Linked DNA regions of Homo sapiens: region 2 is linked to region 1. A link means that fine-mapping ties the variant in region 1 to the expression of a gene that starts in the linked region. Tissue or cell type: gastroesophageal junction. Region 1 holds a variant in brackets; the other region holds the start of a gene. All regions are shown on one strand. Distances are from middle to middle.

Evidence for each region.
Region 2: ACSBG1 starts here. The variant in region 1 is fine-mapped to the expression of ACSBG1 in gastroesophageal junction (GTEx, PIP above 0.99). The same link has a PIP of 0.9 or more in sigmoid colon, stomach, tibial nerve and transverse colon.

The regions. Positions count from the first base shown.
Region 1 is chr15:78,197,661-78,213,820 of GRCh38, forward strand. ACSBG1 (acyl-CoA synthetase bubblegum family member 1) reads right to left here. Exons shown (of 14, transcript NM_015162.5): 2 at 10,342-10,442. Among named protein-coding and RNA genes, the nearest start is that of ACSBG1, 29 kb to the right of the region's middle. RefSeq lists an enhancer at 10,281-10,792. The variant T/C (reference allele first, on the strand shown) is at 7,591.
Region 2 is chr15:78,226,225-78,242,384 of GRCh38, forward strand. ACSBG1 (acyl-CoA synthetase bubblegum family member 1) reads right to left here and starts at 8,341. Exons shown (of 14, transcript NM_015162.5): 1 at 8,147-8,341. The coding sequence starts at 8,277.

The DNA of each region.
Region 1 (16,160 bases):
GTGAGCTGAGATCGCACCACTGCCCTCCAGCCTGGGCGATAGAGCAAGACTCTGTCTTTAAAAAAAAAAAAAAAAAAAAAAAATAGAATGTTGACCCCCCACAAAGTGGTGCAAGAATCTTGTGCAATGGCCCTCAGAGCATGCCCAGGGCCTGGCATCCAGTTGCCTCTCAGTGGTTATTAGTTCTCTTCCCTCCCCTGGCACAGATTCCTCCTACGCCTGGACTACAGAAAAGGTGACTTTCTCCCGTGGGCACATCTAGAAGCTCACGCTCCTCTGTATTCACCTGTTCACCCAGGTTGCCAAGAAGAGCAGAGGTGAGTCTTGGGATCTCCAAGCCAAACGTTTTAACTTGAGCATTTATAATCTCTTTTTTCTTTCCTTTTTTTTGACATGGAGTCTCACTCACTATATTGCCCAGGCTGGAGTGCAGTGGTGCGATCTGGGCTCCTTGCAACCTCCACCTCCTGGGTTCAAGCAATTCTTCTGTCTCAGCCTCCCGAGTAGCTGGGACTACAGGCATGCACCACCATGTCTGGCTAATTTTTTTTGTATTTTTTGGTGGAGACAGGGTTTCACTGTGTTGGCCAGGCTGGTCTCGAACTCCTGGCCTCAAGTGATTGACCTGCCTTGGCCTCCCAAAGTGCTGGGATTACAGGCGTGAGCCACCGTGCCCAGCCACTATAATCTCTTTTTTTGTTTTTGAGACAAAGTCTCACTCTGTCGCCCAGGCTGGAATGCAGTGGCACGATCTTGGCTCACTGCAACCTCTGCCTCCTGGGTTCAAGTGATTCTCCTGCCTCAGCCTCCCAAGTAGCTGGGATTACAGGTGCCCGCCACCATGCCTGGCTAATTTTTGCATTTTTTAGTAGAGATGGCGTTTCGCCATGTTGGCCAGGCTGGTCTTGAACTCCTGACCTCAGGTGATCTGCCTGCCTCGGCCTCCCAAAGTGCTGGGATTACAGGCATGAGCCACCGTGCCTGGCCTATAATCTCTTTTTAATGACAAAAATATGCATACTTGTTCCAAGAAATATGAAACAATTTAGCAGTCTATGACAGAAAAAGTGATAGGCCCTCTTTCTACAAATATTCATACAAGGACTTAGGTTTTATTTTGTTGTTGCAATTGCTTTTTATGAAAAATAAGGTGGCAGGGGAGAGAGATCATCTTATTAATGTATTAATCACAGGTAGCAAACCCAAAATGCTCATGGGACCAGGCGGGTAGTGTATCAGCATCATAGTAAATAATGTATAGTAATACATAATAAATGAATGAAGTGGCCCAGGATTTGCAAATGAAACCAGAGGCAGTCTTCTTTTCCAGGAAGAAATGAGCTCCCTCTCATTTTCCTTTAGACACATGGCCCTTGGAGTCCACCTTTTGTTTCTCTGCTTTTTATAGAGACATGGAACAGCGCAATATTTTTCTTTTCTTTTCTTTTCTTTCTTTCTTTTTCCTTCCTTCCTTCCTTCTTTTTTTGAGACAGGGTCTCATTCTGTCACCCAGGGCTCAAAAGATCCTCCAGTCTTAGCCTCCTGAGTAGCTGAGACCACAGATGCACAGCACTAAGCCCAGCTAATTTTTTTTGTATTTTTGGTAGAGACGTGGGGGTTAGCCATGTTGCCCAGGCTGGTATCGAACTCCTGAGTTCAAACGATCCTCCAGCCTTGGCCTCCCAAAGTGCTAGGATTACAGGCATGAGCCACTGTGCCTGGCCATATTTTTCTATTACGCAAAAAACTACAGGCCAAGTGCAGTGGCTCACGCTTGTAATCACAGCACTTTGGGAGGCCAAGGCAGGATTGCTTGAGGCCAAAAGTTGCAGACAGCTTGAACAATAGAGAGACCTTGTCTCTACAAAAAGTAGATCTTATCTCTACAAAAATTTATCCAGGTGTGTGAAGTATGTAAAGTAACGCATATGCTAATTAGATCAATTTAGCCATTCCACAAAGTAACGGGGACCACAGGTGCATGCCACCATTCCCAGCTTTTTTTTTTTTTTTTCTAGTAGAGACAAGGTCTTGCTATGTTGCCCAGGCTGGTCTTGAACTCCTGGTCTCAAGCAATCCTCCTACCTTGACCTCCCAAAGTGCTGGGATTACAGGTGTGAGCCACTGCGTCCAGCCAAATATATGTTTTAAATCATATGAATCAAATCAAACCTAGCCATTAGCCAAATCATCCATCTTTAACGTTGGTGATATTAACATGCCTGCCTCATTGTGTGCATGCTGTGTGGCTGCGTTGTACTCCACGGTTGGGCCCTCTCATAATTTACTCCGCCACTCTCCACTGAAGGACGCTCAAGTGGTATCCAGCCTCCAGCCCTCCTTCTCGGTTTAGATTATTAGAAGGAGGTTTACCGGATCAAGAGAAAAGAGTGTTTAAAATCTTGATGGACATTTTGGACAGAATTCTTCACCTAATTTCTCCTCTCCCATCAGCTACATGGTTCTGTCTTTTTCCTGTTTCCTCTTCCATGGAGCCTGTGCTTTTGTGTCAGGTCATCTCATATCCTTCCTGGAAGGAGGGAATGAGGCATGGGAAGGGAAGGAAGGTTCATAGGTCTGCAATGTCAGTCTCCTATTAGTCCAGCTGTTTCATGACAGGGACAAGAGCCCTAGCTCTGGAGGACCCCTTGTCACCCTTGGGAAGGGTGACAAGGCCTCCTGGCCAGCTGCATGACCCAGCCCTTTCTCTGCACAAGCTCAGCTGAGCCAGCAGGACCTGTCTGAGCCCCTAGACCAGCTGGAAGAGGAGATTCTGGTGGGAAGGAGGCTGCCCCTGCCCTCGCTGAGGCCCCGATCATCTCTTGCTTACTGCTTACTGAGCCCCTGCCATGCGCCATGCCATTCTTTGCCCATCACCACTGTCACCTCCCAACTAAAGAGTTGAGTGGCAGAGCTGGCATCCAAACCCCCACAGTTCCATACCCAAGTCTGCTGTTCCCACAGGGGTGCTGCCTCTCACGGTGAACTTCAAGGAAGACCCCGGCACCACATCTCCCATCTCCTCTGGGAAAGGACTATCATGCCTCCCGCCAAGTCCTGTGACAGGTTCAGGCTGGGTGACCTTGGGCAGCCATGACCTCCAGCCACCGGCCTTTTCCCACACTCCTGAGACTCCCAGAGTGACCTTGCTAAATCCAGGTCTGACCTGCTCAAAAGCCCCCGATGGCTCTCATTGACCACAGGGAGACGTCTATACCAGGGCTTCTAAGGCAGGCCCTCCCCAAGGGGCTCGCTTACCTTTCCCAGCCTCAACATACACCTTTCCTTACAGCCAACCTGAACTGCTCCCAGTTCCCTTTGGTTCCCCGTCTCTGTGCCTTTGCCTGTGCTGCGACTCTGCCTGCAATGCCCTTCCCTCCATCACATGCCCACACTTTACCGCTCTTCAAGGACCACGTGTTGCCTCCTCACTAAAGACTCCCATCCTGAGCCTAATGGAGGATGGGGTCATGGTCGGGGCTGCCTCTCCCACCACCCTGGAGCTCTGGAAGTCAGATTCCCTCCTCTCTGGGTCCTGGCTACCAGCAGCAACCCGGCCTCCAGCAGAGGCCAGGGGCCTCTTCTTTGGGGAAGAATGAGCTGAACTCTGCCCCACCCTAGTCCCAGGAGGGCTGGAGACCCAGTGACTGTGTGTCTAGAGGACTCAGGCCTTCATCTCTCCCCCACCTCACCCTTGCCCCCCAGGGAGGCCAATGAGGACACAGGACACATTGTGCTTAAGCACAGAGACAGGCTCACAGAGCGGGTATCTACCCAAGCAGGACACGCCAGCCTCCTTTCCCATCTTGCACCCCTGAGAGACTTAGGTAGGGCCTGCCCTGCTCATTGTCCTTCTGACCTGGGCCCACCACAGCTCAGTGGCCTCAGCCTTGGGTGCCAGCTGCCAAGCTCACTCCTGCCCTTCAGAGCTGAAAGAAGGGAAGACAGATGCATCTTCTAGCCTGGGGTGTGCAATCCTCCCCCTTCTTCTCATGTCCATGTGTTCCCACCCGTGGGCTCTGCTCACACCGTGTCCTCTGCCAATCTCCCTCTCTATAGAAGAAGAAGTCTCTGGACAATGAGTTAGAAGGGCTGGGCCTGGGTTTTAGCTACTGGCAAGGTACGCCAAATGCAAGGCAGAACGGTCAGAAGGGGTTGCCCACAGCTGTTGAGCCTTGGACATTGGCCCTGCGACCCCGACAACATGCATGAGACCGGAGCTGCAAGCCCTGGCCAGAGGCTCATGAAGTTGCTGTGCAGGAGCACTGCTCAGTGGGAGTGCTCCCTGTAGGTGGTGACAGAAAATTAGAGTCTCTCCTGCAGAGTTTGGAAGCCACTTGCAGAGATCAGGATGGCTGAGCTGAGACAATGGGGTGGTGGAAGTCACAGCATAGTGAGTGGAGTGCACAGAAGCAGGTGGCGGCAGTAGGGCAGGGAGAAACTGAATTGCAGCAATGCTGGTTGTCACCTGAGCAGGGAGCCAGGAAGGTCCATTCTTCCCATTCCCTGCTAGGCTTTTTCTTTTTACTTTTATGTTCTTTCCTATTATTATTATTATTATTACTATTTGAGACAGAGTCTTGCTCTGTCACCAGGCTGGAGTGCTGTGGCACTATCTCGGCTCACTGCAACCCCTGCCTCCTGGGTTCAAGCGATTCCCCCGCCTCAGCCTCCCGAGTAGCTGGGACTACAGGTGCGTGACACCACGCCCAGCTAATTTTTTGTATTTTAGTAGAGACGGGGTATCACTATGTTGGCCAGGCTGGTCTCGATCTCCTGACCTCATGATCTGCCCACCTCAGCCTCCCAAAGTGGTAGGATTACAGGCGTGAGCCACCACTCCCGGCCTCCTCCTAGCCTCTTTCTAAGCTTCTTTTCTTCCCTGCCTTTCCTCACAATAACCCACATCTCCTGAAGCCATCTGAACTCATCTCCTAACCTCCCTCTCTCCCTAGGTTTCTCCTAAAAGGAAAGAACTTGAAGCAGCAAAAATACAATCAGGCAAACAGACAATATCCACTGTCTGGAAGGTGCAGTGCAGTGCAGAACATGAACTGGTACAGCTTTGTTGGGGGCAACTGGCAATATATATCCAAAGGCTTGAAACAGAAACATCCTTGCACTTAGCAATCATACTTTCTGGAAGTTACTCAAGGGAAGCAATCAGAGACATGTACAGCGAGAATGTGGAGATGGATATCCATACAGCAACGTGTCTATTAGCAAAGCCATTGGAAACAACCCGAATGTCCAACAGGGGACTGGTCTCTTATTCAGTTCATTATGGTAGAGCCGTATCATGGATTCCCATGCAGCCATTAAAATAAAGTACAAAAAGAATATTTAATGACATATGGAAATGTTCACAGTATAACATCAAGTGAAAAGGGGAGCAAAAAAGGGCATACAGAAATGCATAGACCACACTGAAAAGATCTGTATCGAGAGACTTAGGAAATCAGGATGACTGCCAGTCCTTAAAGTAGTCCTCATCTCCCCTTTGTGCTCCACCAACAGGGCACAACCATCAGCTCTGTCCCATGCCCAAACTAAGATCAGTGCAACCATCAGCTCTGTCCCATGCCCAAACTAAGATCACTGCTGTAGTAACAGCCAAGAACGGGGCCAGGACACAATCAAGGTCTCTGTTGCCCAGCAAGGCACCCAGATCCCAACAGGAGCTGACTCCAAAAGGCAACCAACGACTAGATCTACAGCGCAGTGGAGAACCCAGAAAGCTCGCTGCCTGCTGCCAATGCAGCACCACCAGCACACTGCCCGCCCACCAAGTGCCAAGTCAGCTGAGAGCTGGGGGGTAGGCTTTCCCAGGCAAGGTTGGCACTCTCTGCCGCCTCCCTCTCCCTCTGCCGCTTCCTCCCTCTGCCACTTGTCTTGGCCTGACCCTGGCTTGTATCTTATCAATCCACCCTTTATGCTGGGGGCCACTGGGCAGGCAGGGAGCTGTGTTCTCTGGGGTTCTGGAATAAAGGCGTCTAAAGAGCAAAGGCAGTCACTCAATTAGCCGGGAAGGAAAACAACACAAGAGCAGAGAGCGGGAGGCTGGGGCTGTTTTCCGTGGTCTGTGGGAAAGGCTGCAGGAAAGTAGCTTCTTGTGCAGATGGAGGAATAACTGGTGTTGAGGAAGAGGTGGGTCTCAGGCCTAGGACAGATCTCTCTCCGAGAACGGTCCTGCAGGGCACTGACCCCAGAGGCCCTCCTCCAAAGGCCAGGCAGGAACCAGCCCCAGGAGGGCCCCTCTCTCCAACACGGGACCCTGTGCTGAGGGCCAGCCCAATGCAAGGCACTCTCAGGGATACAGAAGAGGAAGAGGCCACATTGGCCCCAGGACATGAAGAGAGATAAGGACAAGACCTAGCACAGAAGGGTCTGTCAGCTGTTCAGTAGTTCCTCTGTGTCTGAGGGGAGAGGGCCCCTGCAGCTGCCACTCCCGGCCTTCTCAATGGGGACTGAAGAGCTCTGAGTTCTGGCCACCACAGCAGAATGACCCTGGGCCTCAGTTTCCCCATCTGAATTACAATTGGGGTAGACAAGATGTTCTCTATACGCTTCTCCACAGTCATTGTTTTAGCTTTTTAAAATTGCCTCTAGGATTCCACTTGTCCAGGCCTGGACCACCGGGGTAAGGGACCTGAGATGGGCTTTACCTGCCCCTGTAAAGGTGAGCATGCTCAGGAGATGTGCAGGAGACCTCAGGCTGGGTCTCCATCCACTGGAGAGAAGCCGGGTCTGAGCAAGAACCCGGGCATCCCAGCCAGAAGCCCTGGGCTGGCCTGCCCCAGACCTGCCCCACATGGCAGGGTCCTAGGAGGGGACACCCAGGCAGTGTCTGAGGCTGTCCAGGCAGGGGCTGGGTGGGTGCCTTGACCCCTGCGGAAAATGTTTCTCTGAGGACCCCCAGAGGTTCCACTCATTTTGGCTGGCAGGGCCGGGATTACCTGTTTCCATATCATGGAGAAGGAATCACTGGCACTCATTTCCTCTGACCCTTGGAAAGCCTTTCCTGCCGGCCCCCATCGGAGGCTGCGGGGACAGGCAGGTCCTCTTGCCTTCCACTGTCCCAACGGCCTCCTCCTGCTACCCGGCCTCAAACTGTGAGCTTCTTGAGGACAAGCATTGTATCAGGCCTCTTTCTGGCTCCCTAGCGCATAGCTCCAGCCTGAAACACCACCCCTTGCAACATTTGGGAAGGGTGGGAGTGACGAACCGAGGGAGGCCCAGCAAATCCCTTGACCCACAAAGGGCTTCACTGGACTGGAGACAAGTGGGGCTGAGCACCTAGCTTCCCAATTGCAAAAGCTCCTTAGTGGGTGTGGGAGTTTCCTAGGGAGAAAGCGGGTGGGGAGCCAGCCCTGGCCAGCACCTCCAGCAGTTTCATCCCCAGCAGCTGCTCACCCCGGGTGCCCTCCCCTCTCTGTGGTCTCGATGCTGCCCTTCTCCTGCTGGGCTTCAAGCTCTATCTAGAAAGGCCTAGAAAGTAAAAAGTAATGTGTCTCCAGGGCCCAGTACAAGGCTGCCTTTGTGTGAAGGTCAGATTCCAGTGTCTCGGTGGCCTGACTTCGCACAGCTGCT[T/C]CCTGGGAGTACAGCCATCTGGAGAGCTCAGAGCTCAGCCTGGGGACCAGAGCTCAGGACCTCAAACTTTTTGGGACCTCAAAGAGATCTGGGAGCCTCCGAGGGCTCCAGAGTGAACCCTGATTCCTGTGTACAAGACTCAAAGAGCTCCCCAGAGGGGCTGCCAGTGTCTGCAGTTAGATGAAAGGGAGGCAGGGGCTGGCCAGACTTGTGGGGGCCAGACCTGGAAGACCAGACTGCATGATGCTATCTAGGTCCCAAAGAGGCAGTGTGGCCAGTTAAGAGTTCCACCTCTTACCAGCTGTGTGACTCTGAGAAAATCACTAACCCTCTCTGAGCTCCATTTCCTCTACCAAATAGGAGTGATAGATTTGTTTTCCCTGCTACTGATATGAAGATAAAAGGAAAGAATACAAGAAAGTCCCTTAGCACAGGGCTTGATTCTTCTTATTCAGGGCACAACTGTGTGAGGAAGGAGGACTTTCAGCTCTCCTAATCCCACGAATCCCTCCTCCCCAGCAGTCTTTGATAGGGATAGTTGGCTTTTCCCAATCTTATCAAAAATGCTTTGTGAAAGGGCAGCTTCAAGACCCCTCCCAATCTGTGCCAGCCCCAATCCCCCTTCTTGTACAGAGACTAGAGCCCAGGGCTCCCAAGCTTCTAGGGAGTCAATGAGAAAGAGTCCAAGCTCCGCTCCAGGCCTGGCACGCGGTGGACACGCCATCCATGAGAATCTGGAACTCACCCACGCTGTAGCGCAGAGGCTCCCCCTCCACCCCCAAGGACACCAGGGCTGCAGGACAGGGTGCTGGGCAGAGCATGGCCCCCGAGCCAGGTCTGTGGGAGCCCATGATGCCTGCTTAGCACTGCCCTGGGAAGCACCTGGGGTCCCTCGGTGGCCTCCGCTCTGGGCGCCTGCTGACAACCATGGTGCCTCCTTAGCCCCTCCCAAACCTCCCCTTTCTCTTTGTCACCAGCCCTGGAAGCTGAACTCCCAAGGGCAGAGCACTCAGTCCAGACCTCTAGGCCTAGAGGGAGCTTGAGGTTCTGAGGACAGCCACAGGTCCTTCTAATGCAAGAGGCCCACCTTGCCCCCACAGCTCCCAGAGGGAGCCCTCCTTCCTCAGCCTGTCCCTGCCCTTTACAGAGGACCTGTCTGCCCTCAGACTGGGGGTTCTTTGAGGGCAGGAAAGAAGATTGTCCGTCTCAGTCTCCTTCACAGCCCAGTGCACAGGGTGGAGGATCCTGGGGCACGCCCACCTTGGCCGTCCCTGCCAGTTTCCCAAAGTCCTGATACACTAGATCGTGATGGCCTTGTCACCTCCCTTACAGTTGCCCACCCAGGCCCTGCCTCGCCATTAAACTCAGGGCCTTCTCCCTGTCCCTCATCTGGCCCCTGGCTGCTCAGATGCCTCTACTCCAGCCCTGTCTGAAGGGACCCTCTCTGGGACTCCCTACCCTGCTTGTTTAAAACCTGCCCATGCTGCGTGTCTACTGCTGCACGGCTGCCAGACGACAGCCATTCAGATGAAGCCATTGAGGCCCGCAGGGCTGGGGATTATGTGTTTCTCCCTCGGGATGCCAGATGCTTTTCTGGGGCTCCAAGGGACACGGAGCCTCCCCCACAAATGGCTCCCTTCCTGCCCCTTGAATTGCAGGAATGCCTGTGCCATCACTCATACTCAGGACTTGCTGAGCTCCACGGTTTTGCTGTGGCCCAGGCCCCTGGTGCCAACACCTGCTCTTTGAGCACCCCAGAGAAGGGATTATAAAGTCTGGGGTGTCTGAGCCTAAGCCAGTTGGTGGGACCTGCCCTAGGTGGCTCAGCAAGTCAGCAAGATGCCTTGGAATCCTGGGAGGATGAACGTGGGAGGCTCCCGGGACCAAGCTGTCCCTGTTCCTGGCCTCTCTCCGGTGTCTTTCAAACCATTCTCAGAAACCAGTTGGTCCTCTTCTTGGCCCAGTCCCTTCTCCTTTATCTCTGAGGTGAGGGCAGGGGGCATGAGAGGAAACACCCACCCCCACAGCTCAGGCCAGATCCCTGCCAAAGCCACCCAAGACACTCGGCCTGGGAGAGCGGCAGCTGGTCTGGCAGCAGTGACCCTCTGTGCTGGGTATCTATTGTTTTCTTTTTGTTTTTAAATTTCTGTTGTTGCTACAATGTTGTTGTGCAGCCAATAAAAGTGCACAAAAGATGTATTATTATTATTATTATCATTTTGATGACTCTTCAGAGTCAGAGTAAATAACTCTGCCTTCCTTAAGGCACAATTATTTGATGGTGGAGATCAAGAAGATAACATGTAATGTTTCAAGCCTCCAAAACAAACCTTTCTAGCCTGCACCCGTCTGCCTGCCCCTTGCCCCAGTTAACCAGGCCAAAAATCCCAAGGCATTGCTTATCTGGGCTTTCTCCTGTCCCTCAGCAACCCTTTGCTGGAGCCCCAAGTTCCCAAGGCCTGGGCCCAGATGATGTCCTACCTGTCTCTCTATCTCTGGCCTCTCTTCTTCCCAGCTTTCTTGAAGAAGAAATCTCCCCATCCCTCATTCCTTTCCATCACGCCTGGCCCTGATGGCAGCCATGAAGGAAGGGGCTTGGTGGGGTCCCTGGGAGCGTGGAACCAGCAAGATCCCCAGCTGCTCCTTCCCGCAGTTCTGTGTGGTGGTCCCCCACACCACCCACCCCTCCAGCACACCCAGCACAGCACAGTTTCCCGCCCTGCCCCACCCTACCACCCCCAGCTGGCTTACCTGGAGCATCCCACTGGGCATTATTCACCTTCTCTGGCACTGAGAGCTCGAGAGCATGGTTCAGGGACTCTTTGGAGAGTGGCTGCCTGTCAGTCAGTGAGCTGGGGTGGTGAGGGGACCAGGAAAAACATTCATTAGAACGTGGGGGACCGGCCTGGGCTTAGGGACTCCGGCCTGGCACACATCTCAGCACCCCCAGGGGGACACTGGCACCTCTGTCTCCTGCAAATGCTGGGGCCATCCACAGAGGAGAACCCAGTGGGAGTCAGGGGACAAGACCTCAGTGGTTGTAGGGGCTGACCCTGCCCCCACCCAGCCTCCCTCCAGGCTCTAAGGGCTCAGGAGAAAGGGAATTCAAGGCCTTCTGTGCTCTACTTTGTGGTGTGACCCTGGGCAAGTTCATGCCTCTCTCGGGGTCTCAGCACCCCACCTGGATGAGGACGGGGCTAAGGTCCGCACTGGAGGATTCTGAATGCCACTCCTGGAGAGGGCAGACTTTTGGGGCGGGGGTTCCCCCATCTGTCACTCCCTGTACCCACCAGTCCCCAGCCATGCCCAGAAACTGAGTGGAGCTGCAGGTACTCATAGGGCTCTCAGGGGTCCTATTCCGGCCCCCCAGTGAGGGCCTCCCCTCTTCCATGTGCTTGTGGGTGCACCATGCACCCCATGTCTGTTCACTCCATGGAGAAGACAGACATAGACGGGTCCAGGGAGACCTGAGGCCCAGGGCCTGACCCAGATCCCCCTCGCCTCCCAGGCTCGGTGACCCTGGCTAAAGGGTCTCCCCTTCTGGCCAACCCAAGTTTCATGGGTTTCTGGGCTTTCATTATCCTTTCAGCCTGACTGCCCTTCAGCACCATTTTTCCTCAGAGTTCACCTGGCCAGACCTCAACCTCCTAGATGGCTGAGCAGCTGGATTTCAGTACACACTTTAGGACTGCAACAGGATTATAGAACTCCAGAGACACATTTCACAGTCAACAACTACGTAAACAGAATCCACTGGAGTTGTGCAGCATGCAACCTGTGCAGCTGGTCATGGTGTCCCTGAGGGTAGGACCCTGGCTCCAGGGAGCCCTGTCTGTCAGTTAGGGTGGGGCTAGCCCCATCCCTGCCCAGTTCCCAGGAAGCCGGGCCAATTACCTGCTTCTCACATTCAGCCTCACTCCTTGTCGGCACTGCAGGTTCCGAACAAAACTAAGTTTGTGAACACACCTAGGCCCACCTGGCAGCCATCTGCTTAAGAACCTGAGATAGGTTTTAAAGCGAAAGATATCAGAAGGTTATGAAGGGAGGGGGACGGGGAGAAGGGGGATGACTGGGGAACCAAGGTGGCGCCGTTCTTGCGAAATTTGTGAGCAAGGCCTGGGCCACAGGCCTGGAGCAGCCCTTCCATTGCTATGGCGACCCACTCCAGGGAGGTTGTGGAAAAACTGAAGAGATGGCAACGTGTGCTTCCGGGGCGAGGCCTCCTGTGCCGGGCAGACAGAGGCGTGTGAATGCTGCAGAACTCGTCCTACTGACTTTGGATCCTTGGTTACAGCTCTCTGGGATAGCCAGGTAGAAGCTGCCTCCACTTTGGGCCGCAATGTTACCAAATGGCCCCTGAGCTCTGGGTTCAGGCAGCGACGGCAAACGAGGGACACGTACACTGCTAGGCTCAGAGGCCTGCACTGTGATCATCTGGGGAAGACTGTGAACTTGGTTGATGTCCCTGCCCCATCTCAGCCTGTGTTCTCAGAGGACGGTGGACAGCACCCCAGGTTAGAGTTAGCAGCTCTAATCAGCCTCTGAGATCACCAGCTGGGCGGCCACCTCCACATTAGCCAGGCAGGAGGCTGTCCTTGGCTGTAATGTCCCACCATCTGAACTGCTTCCTCACAAACAAACCTGTTTTTAAATCCTCCTAATCAAAAGGTATGGGCAGCACTTCTCTCCCCACAGAAAATTAGTGTAAACTGGTTCTGGTTTTAAAATAGCTACACAAAGACTAAATGAAAAGACAGCCACCAAAGGAAGCCAAGGGTCAAGCGTACTTATCGTGATTAGAACCTTCTGTTTATAGGGACGATGAGGCTGTTGGCAGCACCTTCTTGCTGCGGGTGGGTGCCTTTTCCTGGAGGGGCAGCACCCAGTGCAGTGTCAAATTTCTTGTTGCTCAGACACTGATCTTGTCCAGCAACCATGGTCAATGAGAGGGTGGACCGTGGCCCTCTGCCAGCATCAGTTTAACAAGAACACCTTCCTTATCCCTGTGGCTGGCTCAAGGCACTGATTCAACTCTCTATGCCCTATGCTTACAGAATTTGGGGCGCATGATTAAAAGAATGTCAAAACCTAATTCTCCAAATGAATTAAGCCTGATCTTTTCCTCACTAGGGGCTTTGAGAGGTGGTCCCTTTGAAGAGATGTCATCCGAAATAGAATGTGCTAAACCTCCAGTAACTTCCTGCTCACACAGAGTTATAACCAGTAACAGGCTTTCCTGACCTGACTTGTCACACAGAAACAAGTGAAACTGCTCGGGCCATCTGCCTCTCCTCATTGTGAGTGCTGTCTCACACTCGTTGTTGTTCGTAATGGTCGTCTTTCAGTTTTTATTTTGTATGTATGTATTTATTTATATTTTGCAGACAGGGCCTTGCTCTGTTACCCAGGCTGGAGTGCAGGGGCACAATCACCACTCACTGCAACCTCAAACTCCTAGGCTCAAGCAATCCTCTCATCTCAGCTTCCTGAGTAGCTGGGACTACAGGACAGCACCACAAAACCTGGCTAATTTTTGTATTTTTTGTAGAGACAGGGTCTTGCTATGTTGCCAGGCCTGGTCTCCAACTCCTGGGCTCAAGCGATCCTCTAGCCTTGGCCTCCTAAAGTACTGGGATTATAGGCGCAAGTCACCATGCTCGGCCATTTTTTAGTTTTTAATCCTCTCCTCTGTGACTAGCAGTCACTTCTTGCTACTTTCAGTGTGCTGGCTTCTAGCAATTCATCTCACTCCTACATTGCCATTTCTTTTTGTAGCAGAATAGAAAACAAAACAGCCAAGCTCGTTAGAACTTAGGTTACATTGGGGGACAAGTTCCACAATGGAACCTATCATGTTTTCTTTGAAGAAAAGAAGCTAAGGTTTGGGAAGCTGCCCCTACTCTGTCTTAACTCCTCAAAAGCATTTTGGGCCCTTCTCCTGATTCTTGCTGCTATTCCAGGAAGGACAGGTGGCTGTAAATGATCCTACAGGTGAGTTGATATTACTGTCATTGTGATCATCATGAGCACGCCGAAGGCGATTAACATATTATTCCTGTCATTCTGGAAAATTATGCTCCTTCTGGAAGGCAATACTCCAGAGGTTGGCGGAAGTCACCTAACATGATTAATGACAATAATGGTGGAAGAACGGCCTGAGGAGGCTGACTGGCTTCTGTCTGCATTTTGAATTCCCAGGAGGAAGAAGAGCTTACAAGGTTGGCCCTTTTCACTCGTCTTTGAGGACGAGAACAAGGATTCATTCTCTGACCTCAGCTCACATAAGCACACTTTAAGCTCATCGCCTTGCTCTCCTTTCACAGAAAACAAAAACACTTTATCAGCAGCTACCCAGCAGCATGGGAACAAGAAAACAAAGGGCGTGTTTGAGCAAATATGATGTAAGATGTGTGGGGGGCAGAGGAGCCTGGGAGCGTCTGCACTGCGCCTTTCTCTTAACCATCTCTTGGTGGATTGGTGTCTCCTTACTCCTTCTACCTTGCCAGAGGAGCTGATGGGAACCATTTGCACACAGAGCCTCCCAAGCCTCCTTCAACTCCTCCTGCAGGAAGCCCTCCTAGATTTCCCCAACACCCTCTCACCCCTGTGGCCCTTGGATACTCAGGTTTGGGCTTTGATGGTCACACATGGCTTGACAGCTGGGGCCGCTTCTGATTCAGCTCTGTCCTCTGGCCATGAGTACTTACTGTTGGAGCTCAGTACATGTTGGTTGGACCTAAACCTTCTCAAGTTGTCACTATGTGTGTGACACATAAGTTGAGGAGGACCCTCATTTCCCATGTGAACGCTTCACGGATGAGGATCCGTTTCCCATTTATTTCTGTTACCCTTTCTTCTCACTCAGCCTTCAGCAGCCAGGCCACTGTTGTGTATGAAGTAGGTGCTCAATGAACGCTTTCTTGAAACAGGATAGCATCAAAGTTCACCAGTCTGTCTGCCTGCTTGGGCACAACTCACTTTACTAGCTATGTGGCCGAGTCACGGTTCCTCTCTGGCCCTCGGTTTTCTGCCCGTATCCTGTGGCTACTGCAAGGAGAAGGTGATATATAAGAAGTGCTTAGTACGTAGTCAGCTCTCATCATTATTACGCATGAGCTCTCATGGATCTTTGGGGGCTCAAGAAGAAAAGGATAACTTGGCAAGATTGAGAGGGTGACCAGCAGAATGAAAAAAACCCTAAACCCAAGTCTGGGGGTCCAGGTTGCGTGCCAACTACTTTCCCTGGGAGACTGGCTGCGGGGCAGGAGGCGGGGGAAGGTGGGCTCCTTGTTCCTTACGCAGTCCTCAGGATGGAGCTGGCAGACCTGAGCAGGAGCACCTCTGGCATGGTGCCTGGGGGGTGGCTGCAATCTGTGAGCTTGCCCAGGAGAGAGCCAGAACCTCAGAGAACATGTCACGGAGTCCCCCCGGGAGAGCCACAGCAGCCCCAGAGAGGCCCGGCTCCACCGGACCGCCCTGCAACAGAGATACAGCGTGAGTCACCGCTGGCAGCCTGGCTGGGCGAGGGGACAGCTGCCCTCTTTCCTGGCTATGACTCATCTGCTCCTGGGGTGGGACACCCTGCTGTAATTTATGGCCTCATAAGCCCAAACACCCTCAGAATCAATGGAGAATGCCTCGCAGGAGGTGGCTGCCTTGGGGCTGTGGTCTCCATTCCCCACAGCCAACTGATGAGCAAATAAAATCTCCAGGACTCCTGCTTTGCAGAGACTTCTGGCTACCATTCACCAGCCTCCCCATCACTTCTGGTAGTTCCCATCTCTCTCTGCTCAGCGGGCAAAGCAGAACTGACTCCCCAATGGCTGGAGAATGTTCTCCATGGAAGGTGTTGCCTAACTAGTTCCCCATATCCTAAAAACCCCAAACAGGGAGAGCAATGCCTCCTCCAAACCCCACAGTGCTAGTCACACAGGCCTGTGCACAGCCTGATGCTCCCAATAGCAACAATATAGTCTGCAATGGCGATTCACGCTAGCTTCCCCATCACCCTGCGTGGCGGACCCCACGCCCCCTGCTTCTCTTTAGTCTGCATGGACTGCCTCACTTCAAAGATTGGGCCTCTGGCAGCTCTCTCCTAATTGCCAATTCCCAGCCTGAAGACCCCCATAGAGGACTCACGGTAGAGGGTGTGCCTGGGGGTCTGGCTGCCCCAGGGTGCTCACCTTCCTCCTTCTTGCACCTGGCAGGCACAGGGCTCAGCAACCCCTCTGCTCCCTCAGCTAAGGCATGCTGAGTATGGGAGCCAGTCGCTGTGGATGCCCCAGGTTCCGGGTGATGAGGCAGTGGGGTTGGGCATGAGTGGGGACCCGCCCCAGCCTGCCCTAGGGCTGCTGTTGAGGTGTAGCCCCAGATACCTCTGACCTATATGGCACGGGACCCAGTTGCCCACCTGTGTGGCTCTTACATAAGAAGGGTGGGCGGCAGGAGAGGCAGTTTTTTGGCCGTCATCCTTGGCAGAGCCTTGGGAGACAGTTCCTGCCACTGGGTCCCCCAGGGCTGGGCGAGAAGCTCGTCTTTTTGTTTGGTTTGGTTCCTTACTAAGCACATGT
Region 2 (16,160 bases), 29 kb after region 1:
TAGAAATAAAAAAAAGAAATCCCACCACTTTTGCCATATTCTATGTTAGAAATGAATCACTAGATCCAGCCCACGTTCTAGGGTAGATGATTACACAAGAATCCAAAAGGCAAGAATATCAGAGGGCAAGAATCACTGAGCAATATCTTAGAGGCTGCATACTGCACCTAGCATAGACAAAACAATCTTGTAGGGGGAAATAATTCATGAAGTTAAAGGACCAACACTACCTGATTTCAAGATTTAGTATAAGGCTGTAGTAGTGGGCCAGGTGTAGTGGCTCCAGCCTGTTCATCCCAGCACTTTGGAAGGCCAAGGTGGGAAGATCGCTTCAGGCCAGGAGTTCAAGGCCAGCCTGGGCAATGTAGCAAGACTCCATCTCTACAAAAAAAAAAAAAACTTTTAAAAAGCTATAGAATGAAGACAGCATGATATTATATAAAGAAAGAGAAATAATTGCTCAATGGAAGAAAATCAAGAAATAGGCTGACACAAATGTGGTAAATTTTTGATAAAGGAGCCAAGCAATTTAATGTAGGAAATAGTAGAACACATAGAAAAATATATATATATATATAATATATATATATGACCTTGAAATAGCAAAGATTTCTTAGAGAGGGCACAATAGCACTAACCATAGAAGAAAAAAACTAGGTAAATTGGGCTTCATTAAATAAAAAAAAAATTTGCTCATCAAAAGACACACCATTGGCCAGGGGTGGTGGCTCACACCTGTAATCCCAGCACTCTGGGAGGCCGAGGAGGGCAGATCACTTGAGATCAGGAGTTCAAGACCAGACTGGGCAACATGGTGAAACCTGGTCTCTACTAAAAATACAAAACTTAGCTGGGCATGGTGCCACACGCCTGTAGTCCCAGCTACTTGAAGGCTGAGCCACGAGAATTGCTTGAACCTGGGAGGCAGAGGCTGCAGTGAGCCGATATCATGCCATTGCACTCCAGCCTGGGTGACAGAGCGAGACCCTGTCTCAAAAAAAAAAAAAAAAAAAAAAAAAAGATACACAATTAATAAAATGAAGATAAGCCACAAACTGGGAAAAAATATTTCCAATACATATATCTGACAAAATATAACCAGAATATATAAAGAATGCCTACAAATCAATAATAAAAGGATTAAGAACCCAATTACAAAATGAGCTAAAGATTTGAAAAGATAATTTACAAAAGAAGACATGGAAATAACCAATAAGCACATGAAAATATGCTCAATATCATTGATCATCAGGGAAATTTAAATTAAAATCACAGCAAGATATCACTATTCACCCACCAGAATGAAACTAAAAAGAGTAACAATACCCACTGTTGACAAAGATGTGGGAACTTCTGGCAGCTTCTTTAAGCACACACCTATCTTCTGATCCAGTAATTCTATTCCTAGGGATTTACCCAAGAAAATGAGAACATATGTCCACAAAAACACCTTATACAAGAATTTCATAGCAGCTTTACTCATAAAATCCTCAAACTGGAAACAACTCAAATGCCCATCAATAGATTAATGGATAAAAAAAATTGTAGTATAGCCACACAATGGAATTCTACTGAAACGTACAGACGAATGAACTACTGAGACACTTGGCAATACTGATCAATCTCACAAACATTTCGATGAGTGCAAGGAGCCAGACAAGTAACATTCTGTGTGATCCCAAGCATGCCATCCTCAAGAACACCTGGAACATTGGCTGTTCAGAACAGTGGTTACTTATGGGAAAGTGAGGGTGGAGATTGATTAATTGACTAATCTCTTGCCTTAGCCTCCTGAGTAGCTGGGATTATAGATGCATGCACCTCCACACCCAGCTGACATCTAAATTCTTATTTTACAGCTGCTCGGGGCCAGAGTCTGAGCTAGGCCCTAGATGTCCTTCACATGGTCACAACCTTTACAGTTTCCAAAGCACCTTCCCAGCCCTGTTCTAAAGTGTTCCTCACAGGCTCCTTTCCAAGGAGCCAGAATTGTCTGGGTAGGAGGCCAGAGCTGGGATCCAGGGGTCTCTCACAGGACCCAGTGTGAGATAGGGTTTTTTTCTACCACCACTGGCCCTAGATGAAACTGTGCTTTTGCGGAGCTGAAGAGGTAAGTAGTGAGTTCCCCTTCCCTAGAGGTAATCAGGTCAGAGTAGATTGATAATATGTGAATGTTGTAATACAGTGGGTTGGACTTAGTGACCTAAAAAACCTGCTTGCCTTGTACTCTGCCATTCAGGGGCTTGCCTGGAGACAGTGGGTTAGCTTTGGGCCCAGATCCTGACTTCAGGTCAGTTTGAGCTCTGCTGCCCCTGGCTAAAATCTCTGCAGCTCCTGAGAGGACTACCGCTGGCTTGGGCGGACTTGCATTCGGAAGTTATCCAGATCCGTACTCAGAAGTCTAGGACCAGGGTTGGTTTGCCCTAGAGACTCACGCTTTCCATGGATGTGCCTGACCCCTTTGATCTTGGGCTCTTGACACCAGCACCTTGATTTCCTGTGGCTTTTACATGATAGTCCCAAATCTGCCCTGTTCCCACTGGCTTTTAGTCTCTTGAACACTACAAGCTCCATCCCACCTCGGGGCCTTTGCACATGCTGTGCCCATTTCCTAGAAAGTTCTTCCCCTAGCCAACTCCTACTCCTGTTTCATGTCTCAGTTTAAATGTTGCTTTACCAGGAGAGCCTGCACCAACCCTCAAGACCAAGTCAGATCTTCGTTATATTCTATTTTTTTTAATTACCGACATTTTAAAAAAATGTTTGTATTGTGGTAAAATACACATAACATAAAATTTTCCATTTGAAATGTTTTTAAGTGTATAATTCAGTGGCATTGATTATATTCCCTTTTTTTTTTTTTATTCATTCATGGCACCTGTCACAATTACAGTTTAATTGTATAATTATTTGTTAATGTCTGTCTCCCCTGCAAGCATGCAAACTCCTTAAGGTAGAGACTTGTTTTTGTTTTGTTATATTCTTCAGTGCTTAGCGCAATGCCTGATTATTCTACAATAAACAATTTTGAATAAATGAATGCATTCTTAACAAAAACAAAGAAAAACAGTAAAGAAACAAAAACATGAAACAACTGTGTTTTTTACATAATGGGAAGTGGGCAGTGGGAGTGGGAAGAATTTCAGCACTAGAAAGCCCAGATAGTCCATGTTTAAGGACACTTGTGTTCTTTCAGTGACATTCGCCTTACGATTGCCCCTCGTAGGCTAGCACACCCCAGAGAGGCAGAGCGCACTCTCTGTCATCCTGGGAAAGCTCTGTCAGTGGGAACAGCCTTGCTCATGGGGCTTGTAGCAGCCTCCTGCGACCGTTCCACATCCCTGGCTCTTAGGGGGCTCCTCTCTGCACCCAGTCTTTGGGTAGGCAGCGCCGGGAGAGTCAGCTAGGAGCCCAGAGTGAGTGTGGTCACTTCAGAGCCTGACAGCCCTCCCTGGGCCAGATGGGACCCTTGGAGCTCCCAAGTCCTGGCCTCCTGCCTCCACCTCACCCCTAGTCCAGCCTGTACTCACTGCTGCTAGATTCACAAACCCCAAACCAGGCTCTCCCCAGGCTTCTGCTGCTTGCACCCCTCCCAGGGTTCCTGTCTGCCTCCTTCTTTGAGCCTGGCTGCCCTTAGTCTGGCCACGTCAGCCTCTCTAGGCCCAGGAGTTAGCCGGTCCCCAACCTGACCAGTCTCATGGCCACCCGTAACATCTTCACAATCATGCCTTTGGTCAGCACAGCGCCCTGCTTGCCATCCGGGCATCCACAGCCTTTCAAACACAGGATGGACTGTCCTCTTCTGAGGTTCCTTCCAAGCCCTTCCTCCACAATGGGCTTCCTTAGGCTCAGGGAGACCGGTGTCTCCACTGGACAGAGGGCTTCCCAGGGTCAGGACCCAGGCCCTGGGCAGGCTCAAGGGGTGTCCCTGATGGAGGGCATGGTCTACAGCCACAGCCTCAAGGGCACAGAACACAAGCTGCCAGAGCAGGGCCAGTGTTAGCTCAGACCCCACGGGTTTTGCCTCTCCTGGCCCTGGCCTGGCTGTTTCCTCCGGACACCTGCCCCAGTCACTGGGATCCAGCCCTGCAACTTGTGTGGCAGGGAAGGGAACTCTCGTGGGTCAGGCCAGGGTGCAAGCCCTCCTCGGGCTCTCAGCCTCCCCTTTCTTCCACCTCCTGTCTTCCCCTCTGCAACACTGGGAAGCAGGGGGAAGATAAGCCCCTCTCAGGCTATGGAGGAATGCAGACCCGCCTTTCCCCAGGAGCAGCCACCATGGCCACAAGGTCAGGGCAAACGGGCAGGACTGAGATAGAGCCCTTCTGATATGGTCTGGCTGTGTCCCCACCCAAATCTCATCTGGAATTCCCATGTGTTGTGAGACAGACCAGGTGGGAGGTAATTGCATCATGGGGGCAGGTCCTTCCCGTGCTGTTCTCGTTACAGTAAGTCGCACAAGATCTGAGGATTATTATAAGGGGGAGTTTTTCTGCTCAAGCTCTCGTCTTGTCTGCTGCCATGTGAGATGTGCCTTTCGTCTTCTGCCATGATTGTAAGGCCACCTCAGCCACATGGAACTGTAAGTCCAATAAACTTCTTTCTTTTGTAAACTTCCCCGTCTCAGGTATGTCTTTATCAGCAGCGGGAAAACAGACTAATACACCTTCCCTCCTGGAGTTGGCCCAGAGGAGCAGAGAAGCAGAAAGGGGCATCACAATGGTCACAACAATGATCTCTCTGCCTTATTTATCTAGTTTTTGAGACAGGGTCTTGCTGTGTCACCCAGGTGGAGTGCAGTGGTGCCATCATGGCTTGACCTCCCGGGCTCAATTGATTTTCCCACGTCAGCCTTCTGAGTAGCTGGGACCACAGGTATGTGCCACCACATCTGGCTAATTTTTTTTTCTTTTTTTGAGACGGAGTTTTATTCTTGTTGCCCAGGCTGGAGTGCAATGGCACGATCTCAGCTCACGGCAACCTCTGCCTCCCAGATTCAAGCAGTTCTCCTGCCTCAGCCTCTCAAGTAGCTGGGATTATAGGCATGCGCCACCACGCCTGGCTAATTTTTTTTTTTTTGTATTTTTTTAGTAGAGACGGGGTTTCTCCATGTGGGTCAGGCTGGTCTCGAACTCCTGACCTCAGGTGATCTGCCCACCTCGGCCTCCCAAAGTACGGGGATTACAGGTGTGAGCCACTGTGCTCAGCTTTTTTGTATTTTTTTAAGCAAATTTTTGTATTTTTTGTACAGACAGGGTTTCAACATGTTACCCAGGCTGGTCTCGAACTCCTGGGCTTAAACAATCCACCCATTTTGTCCTACCAAAGTGCCAGGATTACAGGTGTGAGCCACTGTGCCTAGCCTATTTTTTATTTTTATTATTTTTTTGAGACAGAGTCTTGCCCTGTAGTCCAGGCTAGAGTACAGTGGTTAATAGCTCATTGCAGCCTCACACTCCTGGGCTCAAGCGATCCTCCCACCTCAGCCTCCTGAGTAGGTGGGACTACAGGTGCACACTATCATGCCTGGCCAATTTTTAAATTTTTAGCAGAGACAAGGTCTTGCTTTGTTGCCCAGACTGGTCTTGAACTCCTGCACTCAAGCAATCTTCCTTCCTTGGCCTCCTAAAGTGCTAGAATTACAGGCATGAGCCACTGCACCTGGCTCTCTCTGACTTTAGAACAATGTTTTACAAGAATTAAGTTCTTTTCTCACAGCTGCTCTGCAAGAATGTCAGAGCAGGTTTAGCTTCCCTGTTTGACAGATGGGGAAACTGAGGCTCAGAGAAGGTATCTTGCCAAGGGTCACAGAATGGGTTAGGAGCAGAGCTGGACTGGAACCCAAGGCATGTGACCTCCAGCCTGCTGCTAAGAGTGTTGCTATGAGAGTTACTATGCCTGTGATGGGTAACTCTTATGCTTTGAAAACATTTTCATACACATTAGCTGATGGAATCCACCCAATTTTTCTGCAATGTCAATGAAGTTCAGGCGTTGTATATTTATTTGTACAGAGGATGCTATTGAGGCTCAGAAAGGTTAAACAATGTATCCAAAGTCACTCAGCAAGAAAGTAGTAGAACTGACACTCCAACTCTTGGGTTTTTAGCCTTTCTCTTTCCCTACGGGGTCCCAAGACCCATTTACCCTTTCAGGAGGGAGTCCTTCTCTGCACAAGCCTAGGGTTCTGCCTCAAGTTTGCCTACTTTCCTTCAGTGATGTCTGCAAAACAAGCCCAGTCCTCTGTGAGCTTTGCAGGGCACACAGGACCCTCTGCCACCCCTTTTCACCACAGGCCTGAGACACAGGCTCCTGTGGCCCTGAGCCCCACTTGGCCCCTCACTCACAGGGAGCAGAAGACCCTGAGATCCTGCAGACCTTGATTTTGTTTTCAAAGACTCCCCTGGCCCTGGCTGTCCTCATGCCTGTCTACCCCTGCTCTGGGCACATTTATTTCTTTTTCTTCTTTTTTTTTTTTTTGAGAAGGACTTTTGCTCTCGTGGCCCAGGCTGGAGTGCAGTGGCACGATCTTGACTCACTGCAATTTCCACCTCCCGGGTTCAAGCAATTCTCCTGCCTCAGCCTCCTGAGTAGCTGGGATTACAGGCACGTACCACCACCTGGCTGTTTGTATTTTTAGTAGAGACAGAGTTTCATCACATTGGGCAGGCTGGTCTCAGAACTCCTGACCTTGGGTGATCCACCCGACTCAGCCTCCCAAAGTGCTGGGATTACAGGCATGAGCCATCATGCATGGCCTCTGGACATATTTCGATGTGCTCCTCTGAGCATCTCGCCTGGCCTTCCTGCTCTCTGAGCCCACAGACCCCAGGGAGGAGGGGAGGTGCCAGGACACCGGGGCCCAGAGGAGATCCTGAATCTGCCCTTGGGTGAGGAAGTCAGTCCAGCTTTCTTCCAGGGGCCCTTGACCCTCTGTGCACCTGACCTATGCCCAGGGAGGGGCTTGCCCTCATGCTCTTGGAGGCTTTGCAGGGAAGAGTCCCTGCTTCTGGAAGAACAGGAGTCCACTTTGGATTAGCAGGGTTCTCTGGAGACCCAGGGCAGGGCCCAGATGCCAGCCCTCGGAGGGGCCTCTGCATCTCTGAGGCGCATTAACATCTGTTCCCATTTCCCTCTATCTTCCTTCCCCATAACCTTCCATCAGGACAGGGGCTGTAGTCTTGGTAGCTCAGACACTGGCAATTCCTCCCCATTACTACAGAGGACTTGGACCCTGGTATTTAGCCCCTGTCCTCCCCAGTTCTATGCTTCCGCCACCCAGACCTCTCCCATCCCCAAACTTCCTGTCTTGCTTTGTTAGGTCGTTCTCTCTGCCCACTGCTCTTGGCTCCACTCTGACCGTCAAGGTCCATCTCAGGCGCCCCAGTTAGAAACCTCCTTCTCTCTGCCCCTTCGCCTGCGCCCCTCCTGGACACAAATCACAGATGTTGGGGTCCTGGAGTTCCGTGTGTGTGCGTGTGCGCGTGCGCCTGCCTTCTTCCTGCCTTCTGGCCAGGGCATCCCAGGGCTGGGACTGAGTCTCATCTTCTCAGGATCCCCTACTCCCTGGATGGACAGGGCCTGGGCCAGGGTGGGCATTGGTGAATGCCTGATACGTTGAATCCACTTCCTCTAAATCACAGATTACTGGAATATATACAGTGGAAGGGCTTTAGGGAAACCTCAGCCACTGCACTCATATTCAGACAGGGAAGCTACAGCCCACGGAGGGCAAAGGCACTTGCCAAGGTCACGCAGCAAACTGGAGCGGGAACCTCTGGGTCCCCACCAAAACTTATCTGTCTTTGACCCCCGCAGGCAAAAGTCCCCCTTGAGGAGACAGGGAAACATTCTTGACTGAAAAATTCCTCCTCCATCCAACTGAGATCCAACTGGTCTCCAACTGCAGCCCCAGCTCATACCCCTGGGATGTGCCTCATTCTTTGATGAGCCTTTCTTAGCCATGCTAAGTAGCCCTCCAAATGACCAGTTCTTCCATCTTACGGATCGCCCAGATCCTTCCCTTCATTTCCCAGGTGAAGAAACTGAGGCTCAGAGAGAGAAGCAGCTTGCCCAAGTTCACACAGCAGAGCAAAGTCTAGAACTCGGCCCACAGGTGCAGTGTGCAGAAACCCAACCAATGACTTACCTGGTTTTCAATTTTTCTTGGGTGGTCCTCACAATCATGTCCTGCCGGCTCTCCTGTGGGGTCTCTCTGCTGTCCAGCATGCTGGGGTCCCCGTGTGGGCAGCCGTATCCAGCTCCAGAATTGCGTGGCATCTGCCTCGGGCTTCCACTGAAGACAGCTCAGTCACCCACTGAGAGAGGCTAGCCTTGAGTGAGCAGTGGGGGTGGGCATGGGGCAGGGGAGGCGGCAACTAGAGTGACCCAAAGAGGCTCATTTCCTCTCTATTTTTAGAAGCTCAAAAAAAATTGCTCCTCAGTGAAGTTTCTCAGAATTAAAACTTTCCTTTTCTTTGTGGTTTTGTTTCTCTCAAGATGAGGAGAATTTCAATGAAGCCAGTGTTCTTTTTGATGCAAATCCGCTCCGCTTCTCCCAGGAGGTCTGGCCAATGGGCTCAGGGCTTCTGGGCCCCCAGAAAACCTCCTCACTGGCTTTAAAAGGTCATAGTGGTTCTCAGCACAAATCCAGACCCAGATCCTGAAGTGGCTGCTACCCCTGGCTGCATACACTCTGCAACCTTGACTTGCGGTCTGCCGAATGCTGCCCTGGGAGGGATCTCACCCACTCAGTCCCCCTCCCCCAGGTCCTGCATGGAGGCTGGAGACCCAAGGAGGGAGCCCACCCCGGGGGAAGGAAGGAGACATTTCCAACACTGAGACCACGCCACATGGTCTATAGAAGCAGTTGCACTGAAGACATGATAGAGGCAACCGAGGAATGTGACTTTCCAGGGACACATGAATAGAAGCCTGGATCTGTCCCTTCTTCTAAAGGAAAGAAGCATGTTAAGGGGGGCGGGGGGGTTTCAGGCAGCCATAAAGAGATGGGAAATTCACACAGGACAAGGCCTTTTTCTGAATACCAAAAGTCTCCCCTCTAAGACCATGTATTCATTCCCCAGGGCTGCTGTAACAAAGTTCCACAAACTGGATAGCTTCAAACAACAGAAATGTATTCTCCCACGGCTCTGGAGGCCAGAAGTTGGAAATGAAGATGTGCGCAGGGCCACACTCCCTCTGGGGGCTGTGGGCAGACTCTTTCTTTGCTTCTCTCCCAGCTGCTGGGGGTCACTGGCCATCCTGGGTGTTCCTTGGCTTGCATGTGCATCTCTCCAGCCTCTGCCTCTGTCCTCACGTGGCTGTCTTTCCTCTGTGTCTATGCCTTAGTACATTTTCTGTTGCTATCACTGAATACCTCAGACTGGGTAATTCATAACGAAAATAGGTCGGGTGCGGAGGCTCATGCCTTTAATCCCAGCACTTTGGGAAGCCAAGGTGGGAGGATTGCTTGAGCGTAGGAGTTCAAGACCATCCTGGGCAACATAGTAAGACTTTGTCTCTTCAAAAAATAAAACAGAATTAGCTGGGTGCCACGCCGTGGTGTGCACCTGTGGTCCCAGCCACTTGGGAGGCTGAGGTGGGATGATCACTCAAGCCTGGGAGGTTGAGACTGTAGTGAGCCATGATTGCACCACTGCACTCCAGCCTGGGCAACCAGAGTGAGACCCTGCCTCAAAAATAAAACAAACAAACAAATTTAAAAAAACACCAAAACACACACACACACACACACACACACACACACACACAAAGAAATTGATTTCTTAAAGCTCTAGAGGCTGGAAGTCCAATATTAAGGTGCCAGCATCTGGTGAGGGCTTTCTTGCTACATCATAACGTGGAGGGCATCACATGGTGAGAGGGCAAGAGCGTGGTGCCAGCTCAGGTCTTTCTTCTCTTATAAAGTTTCCAGTTTCAACATGGGACCCCGCCCTGATGACCTTGCCTAACCCTAATTACCTCCCAAGGGCTCAACTTCCAATCAACATATGAATTTTGAGGTTAAGTTTCCAACATATGAAATTTGTTGGGAATTTTCCCACCATAGCAGTCTATGTTCCTATTTTCTCTTCTTACATGGACACCAGTCATTGGAGTAGGGCCTTCCCTGATGCCAAAGAACCTCATCTTAACTATATCTGCAGAGACCCTATTTTCAAACAAGATCACATTCTGAGGCTCTGGGTAGACATGAATTTGCTGGGGGACGCAATTAAAATCCATATACATTGTGTACAGGAGGTGTTAGTGGGGATACCTATGAGATGTCCCCAAGAAGAAATAGGTCCAGTTGGGCCACAGGTGATGCTGTCTGGTGAAGGCAGGTGACTGAGAAAAAGCTGGGCTGCCTTCTAACAAACTCAGGGCACAGGCCACAGGCCCCCAAATGCTGCCTTCCTAATGCTGTTGAAGGTACACTGAGCAGGTCGTCTGGGGTCTAGCTGCAAGGCCTGAATCTCCCACTGACACGCCCTCAACCACGATCTTGGGCAGATCTCGGCCCTCTCCTGGCCTCAGTTTTAACTGCTTGAATCATGAGGGTGATGGCCTGAGGTGGGCCAAAGTGGCCACCAGCTCCAACTGGACGTGAGAAGGTGATGGGGAGTCCTTTGCCCATGGGCTGATTGGAGGGATCGAATGAGTCACCACTGTAAGTGACAAGTCAGTGTCTCCCCACCCGAGGAGAATCATAATCAGAGAAAAAGACATAGAATGCTCAGCTCTGAAGTTCAAAAGCCTTGGTCAATATGAAAGCCTGGGAAGGTTCGGAAAAATGTGTAAGTTGTTCATTCCCAACTCCCCTTCCTTCCCCATCCCTCAGATTCTTATAGATCCAGGGAACCAGGAAGGGGAAGAGAGTCCAAACAGAAGCAAGGCCCTGGGGAGGGCCTTAAGAAGACCTCCCTTGGGCAGATCTTCCAGGTCTGAGCATATCAGGGACCTGAGGTGGCCCAAGAAAGCGACAGGGCCCCAGAGTGCTCAGCGCGGGCCACAGAGAAAAGATGGCTTCAAGGAACCAAAAGCAAAAAGGCCCGGCACACCCTCTCGCCAGGGCAGGCAGTGAACTGAGGGTCAGGTGGCTGCTGGAGGAGAAAGTTGGTGGGCTGGCAACAGAGGCTGATAGGAACAAGGTCATTCTGCAGTCACTGCGAGGAGGGCTGACCCCACCTGGGAACCAGGACAAAGGCAATATATCAACAGAAGCTCAAGGCTGGGACATGGTGCTGAAAAGGTCAGGCTGTAGTGGAGTCTGATTTGGCTGAACTTTTTAAATGGTTCATTTCATTTTGAAAAATAAATACAAGCAATATGCCAGTTATGTCCAGATTCCCTCTCTACTCTCTCCCCTGGTTCTGTCCCCAGAGCTGCCCTGTGTGAGCCTCCCTTGGGCTCCCGGCCTCTGGCCTCTGGTTGTCAGGCCAATGCCAGGTGGTGGCAGGACAGCAGAAGGTAGAGAGAAAGAAAGGTTGGAGTTTTTATTCCTCTCCTTCCCTCCCGGCTGGCCACACTTTTGGCAGCAGCAGCCCCTCCAGCCAGCTCTGGCCTCAGGGGGAACAGTTCCTCCCCAGCTCCTTCAGGTCAGAAGTGTCTACCTCCCTGCAGCTGCCTCACCATCCCCTGTGGCTCCCTTAACACTGTCCTCACCTGTCCCTTCATTTTCTTCACCTACCACTTTTAAGGGGCCATCTCTTGCAGAAAGAACCCTGATTGATACAGTGGAACATGAAAATGTACAAAGGGGACTAACTGCTTGATGGGTATGGGGTCTCCTTTTGGGGTGATGAACATGTTTTGAATCTAGATAGAGATGATGGTTGCACAGCACCGTGAATGTACTAAATGCCACTGAATTGTACACTTTTTTTTTTTGAGACAGGATCTCATTCTGTTGCTTAGGCTGGAACGCAGTGGTGCGACCGTAGCTCGCTGCAGCCTCAAACTCCCAGGCTCCAGTGATCCTCCCACCTCAGCCTCCTGAGTGGCTGGGGCTACAGGCATGTATCACCATGCCTGGCTAATTTTTAAATTTTTTTTGGAGAGACAAGGTCTTGCTATGTTTCCCAGGCTAGTCTTGAACTCCTAGCCTCAAAGGATCCTCCTGTCTCAGCCTCCCAAGGTACTGGGATTATAGGTGTGAGCCACCATGCCCAGCCATGAATCCTACACTTTAAAATGGTGAATTTAATGTTATGTGAATTTCACCTCAATACAATGTTTTAAAAAGTACAAAGGGCTTCATAGTAAAAATTAAATTTTCCTCCCACTTTTCTGTCCCTCTCCCCACCATCCTTCACTCATTTCTTTTCTCCAGAGCCACCACTGTTAAAAATTTCTTTTTTGCATCATTCTAGAAATATCTTGGATATATACAAATGCTAACATATGGCATACACAGTTTCGTGTCTTCTTATACTTGACAACATTTGCTGGAGAACTTTTCATATTTTTGCCTGGAGAACTTCCTGGTTCTCTTTTTGTGGGGTAGGTACAGCATTCCATGGAAGGGCTGGCCCGAGATGCATTTCAACAGCTCTGTAGGATGAACATTTAGGTTGTTTTCAGTCTTTTGCTGTTACAGATGAAGCTGTGATGAATAATCTTATCCTTGCGTGGTTCGTACTTGAGCTAGTCTATCTCTAGGATAAATTCCTAGAAATGGGACGCTAGGACTTGACTAAGTTTAAACTTGAAAATGACCGAGTTTTTGCGAAACTCTTATTGGGTCGGGGGGTCCTTGCTCCCAGAGCTCCCAAGATGGTGGCGGGCCGCTTCCAAGATGGTGGCAAGCCTTGTGTTCTCTGACCTGGGGTTCTTGGCCTCATGGATTCCAAGGAATGGAATCTTGGGCCATGTGGTGAGTGTTATCGCTCTATTAGAAGCCGTGGATCACGGAAGAGAACCGTGGAACCCAGTGACTAGCGTTCAGCTGGATTAGGACAAACCTGGGCACCTAGCTGTGCAGGAACAATGGCAAGCCTTTAGCCGGATCGGGAGCGGCAATGGGTGCCTCATTGGATCAGGAGCACAGTGGACACCCTGCCGGATCCAGACGGATGGCAGTCAGCAGCGGGTCTGCGACAGCGGCAAACAGCAGTGGTGGACGGCGAGCAAAAGCTCAGCTCGAGCGGTAACAAACATGGACCAGAAGAGAATTGCAAGATTTTTTTTTTTTTTTTTTGAGATGGAGTCTTGCTCTGTCGCCCAGGCTGGAGTGCAGTGGTGTGACCTAGGCTCACTGCAAGCTCCACCTCCTCAGGTTCACACCATTCTCCAACTCAGCCTCCCGAGTAGCTGGGACTACAGGAGCCCGCCACCATGCCCAGCTAATTTTTTTGTATTTTTATTAGTGACTGGGTTTCACCATGTCAGCCAGGATGGTCTCGATCTCCTGACCTCGTGATCTGCCCGCCTCAGGCTCCCAAAGTGCTGGGATTACAGGCGTAAGCCACCGTGCCCCACCAGTTGCAAGATTTAGTAGAGTGAAAACAGAGCTCCCATACAAAGGGAGGAGACCCAAAGTGGGTAGCCAGTTGCCAGCTGGAATGCCTGGGTTTATATCCCGATTGTCGTTCCTCCTGCTGTGCTCTCAGGCAATAGATGATTGGCTATTTCTTTACCTCCTGTTTTTGCCTAATTAGCATTTTAATGAGCTCTCTTTATTACCTGATTGGTCAGGTATGAGCTAAGTTGCAAGCCCCGTGTTTAAAGGTGGATGTGGCCATCTTCCCAGCTAGGCTTAGGGATTCTCAGTCGGCCTAGGAAATCCAGCTGGTCCTGTCTCTCAAAACCAACAGATTAAATGTCCTGCCATTAGGAGGAAGGGTGGAGAGCTGTAAAAAAAATTTTTTTTCCATTGAGTTACAGAAAATAAAACTGCAGTTTTGCCCACCTGAGTTTGTCGATTGAGGAAGTTTGTGCCTGCTATGCGTGTAAGGCCAAATGCCTCTGCACCAGCCTCTACTGTCATCGAAGTGATTGCTGCCCTCACTGGTTTTCAACTTCAAGAATTGGCTGGGTGTGGTGGCTCATGCCTAGCACTTTGGGAAGCTGAGGCAGGTTGACTGCCTGAGCTCAGGAGTTCGAGACCAGCCTGGGCAACACAGTGAAACCCCATCTCTACTAAAATACAAAAAATTAGCTGGCGTGGTGCTGTGCACCTGTAATCCCAGCTACTCAGGAGGCTGAGGCAGGAGAATTGCTAGAAGCCGGGAGGCGGAAGTTGCAGTGAGCCAAGATCACGCCACTGCACTCCAGCCTGGGCAACAGAGTGAGACTCCATCTCTTAAAAAAAAAAAAAAAAAAAATCAAGACCACTATTTTCCAATCAATTTCTTTACCACCTTCATTAGTTTTGCCATATTTGGTTTCCCCAGGGGTATAGTACATTATTTACTATTTTTCAACTCCATTTTATAATTTAAAAATGAAATAGCTTTATTCTAAGCAATTGAAGAACTTGTTATATAAATATATACAGATATTTCCCAATGCATGTTGAAATTAACATGAAACTACCTTTTCTTCTTTCTTTTTGAGAGATTGAGGGGGGGGTCTCATCATGTTGCTCGGGCTGGTCTTGAACTCCTGGGGTCAAGCAATCAGCCTGCCTCCCACAACAAAGAGATATTAAGTGTTTTGTTTTTGTTTTTAAAAGCCTTTAAAAAGGCTTGGGTGGGAGGGTCATTGCTGTATGTTTTCAGCATTAGCTTTTCTGGGCCACTTTTTTGTTATCATGCGTATGTATTACCAGGAGACGATTTTTTTTTTCTTTTTAAATTTCAAAATACTGCACCTGGGGCTCTGGATTGAGGCCTCGCAGTCGTCTCTGGGTGCAGGACGAGCAGGAGAACAATGGGCCTCTGCTGACCCCTGCTGGCCAGAGCGCCTCCCACCCACCCAGGTCTCCACAGGACTGGGATCTTGCGCCACTGCCTCCATCCCCAGAAACAGCCGTCCTTCCTCCCCTGCCCCCAGAAGGCCTCCGGCAGCCACCACAGTGTGCTCTGGACATCGAGTCTGGGGCCCGGCTGGGAGACCCTTGTGCTCCAGAGGGCGCTGAGGCTCTGGGCTGCATTTGTGTCCCCTCTGGCCCTGTCTACATCGAGTGGGTGGGGTGTGAGTCCTGGGATCAGAGTATCCTCCAGCTCTAGATAAAACCCGACTTTGGAAGGCCAAGGTGGGTGGATGACCTGAGGTCAGGAGTTCGAGACCGGTCTGACCAACATGGTAAAGCCCTGTCTCTACTAAAAATACAAAAATAAGCCAGGCGTGGTGGTGGGTGCCTGTAGTCCAAGCTACTCGGGAGGCTGAGGCAGGAGAATTGCTTGAACCCAGGCGGTGGAGGTTGCAGTGAGCCAAGGTTGCACCACTGCACTCCAGCCTGGGTGACAGAGACTCTGTCTCAAAAATAAATAAAATAAAATAGATAAAACCCAGAGATTTTTGGAGATTCAAACTCCTCTCCCAGGGACTCACATTCTCTGAGCTATGGGTCACCAGGGCAGAGCTTTCCTGAGAGGAGGGGCAGAAGAACGTAGCACATAGAGGATTCTAACCTGCCAGGACTGAGCTGGGAGTGGGCAATGGAGACCACGGAGGATGGAGGCCTTTGGAGGATTAGGGAAGGAGGAGGAAGGGAGGGAACCCAGATGTCTGGGCAACCTCTGCAGAGGAGGCACCTTCTTTTCTCACCTGGAAAGACCTGGATCAAGGGCCACGTGACCCGTATTCTCCAGATCTGCACCATATAGGGCAGGGGTGGAACACACTGGTTTTTGGATTTGCACCATGACCCAAGCCAAGTCACCTCTCTGAGTCTCAGTTTCCTCCTCTGTAAAATGGAGAGTCCTGATTACCAGGGGCAGAACCCCTAACTGAAACCAGCAGAGACAAAAAGGACCACGAGATGATGGGTGCAATGCAGGACAGGGTGAATAACTAAACACAAAGGGGCGAGGGGTGCTCTGCCACTGGGAAGGATCCCCCTTCTCCACCTCCCTTATGAGGGAGTGAATCTCATGGCTCACTCTGCACTGGCTCCCTCCTGTGGAGAGACCGGGGATAGGAAGACAGCCGTAAGTTCCCCGGCTTTCTCCCCTCAACAGAATGGTCCAAAGTGCAGCACACACAACCTGTCT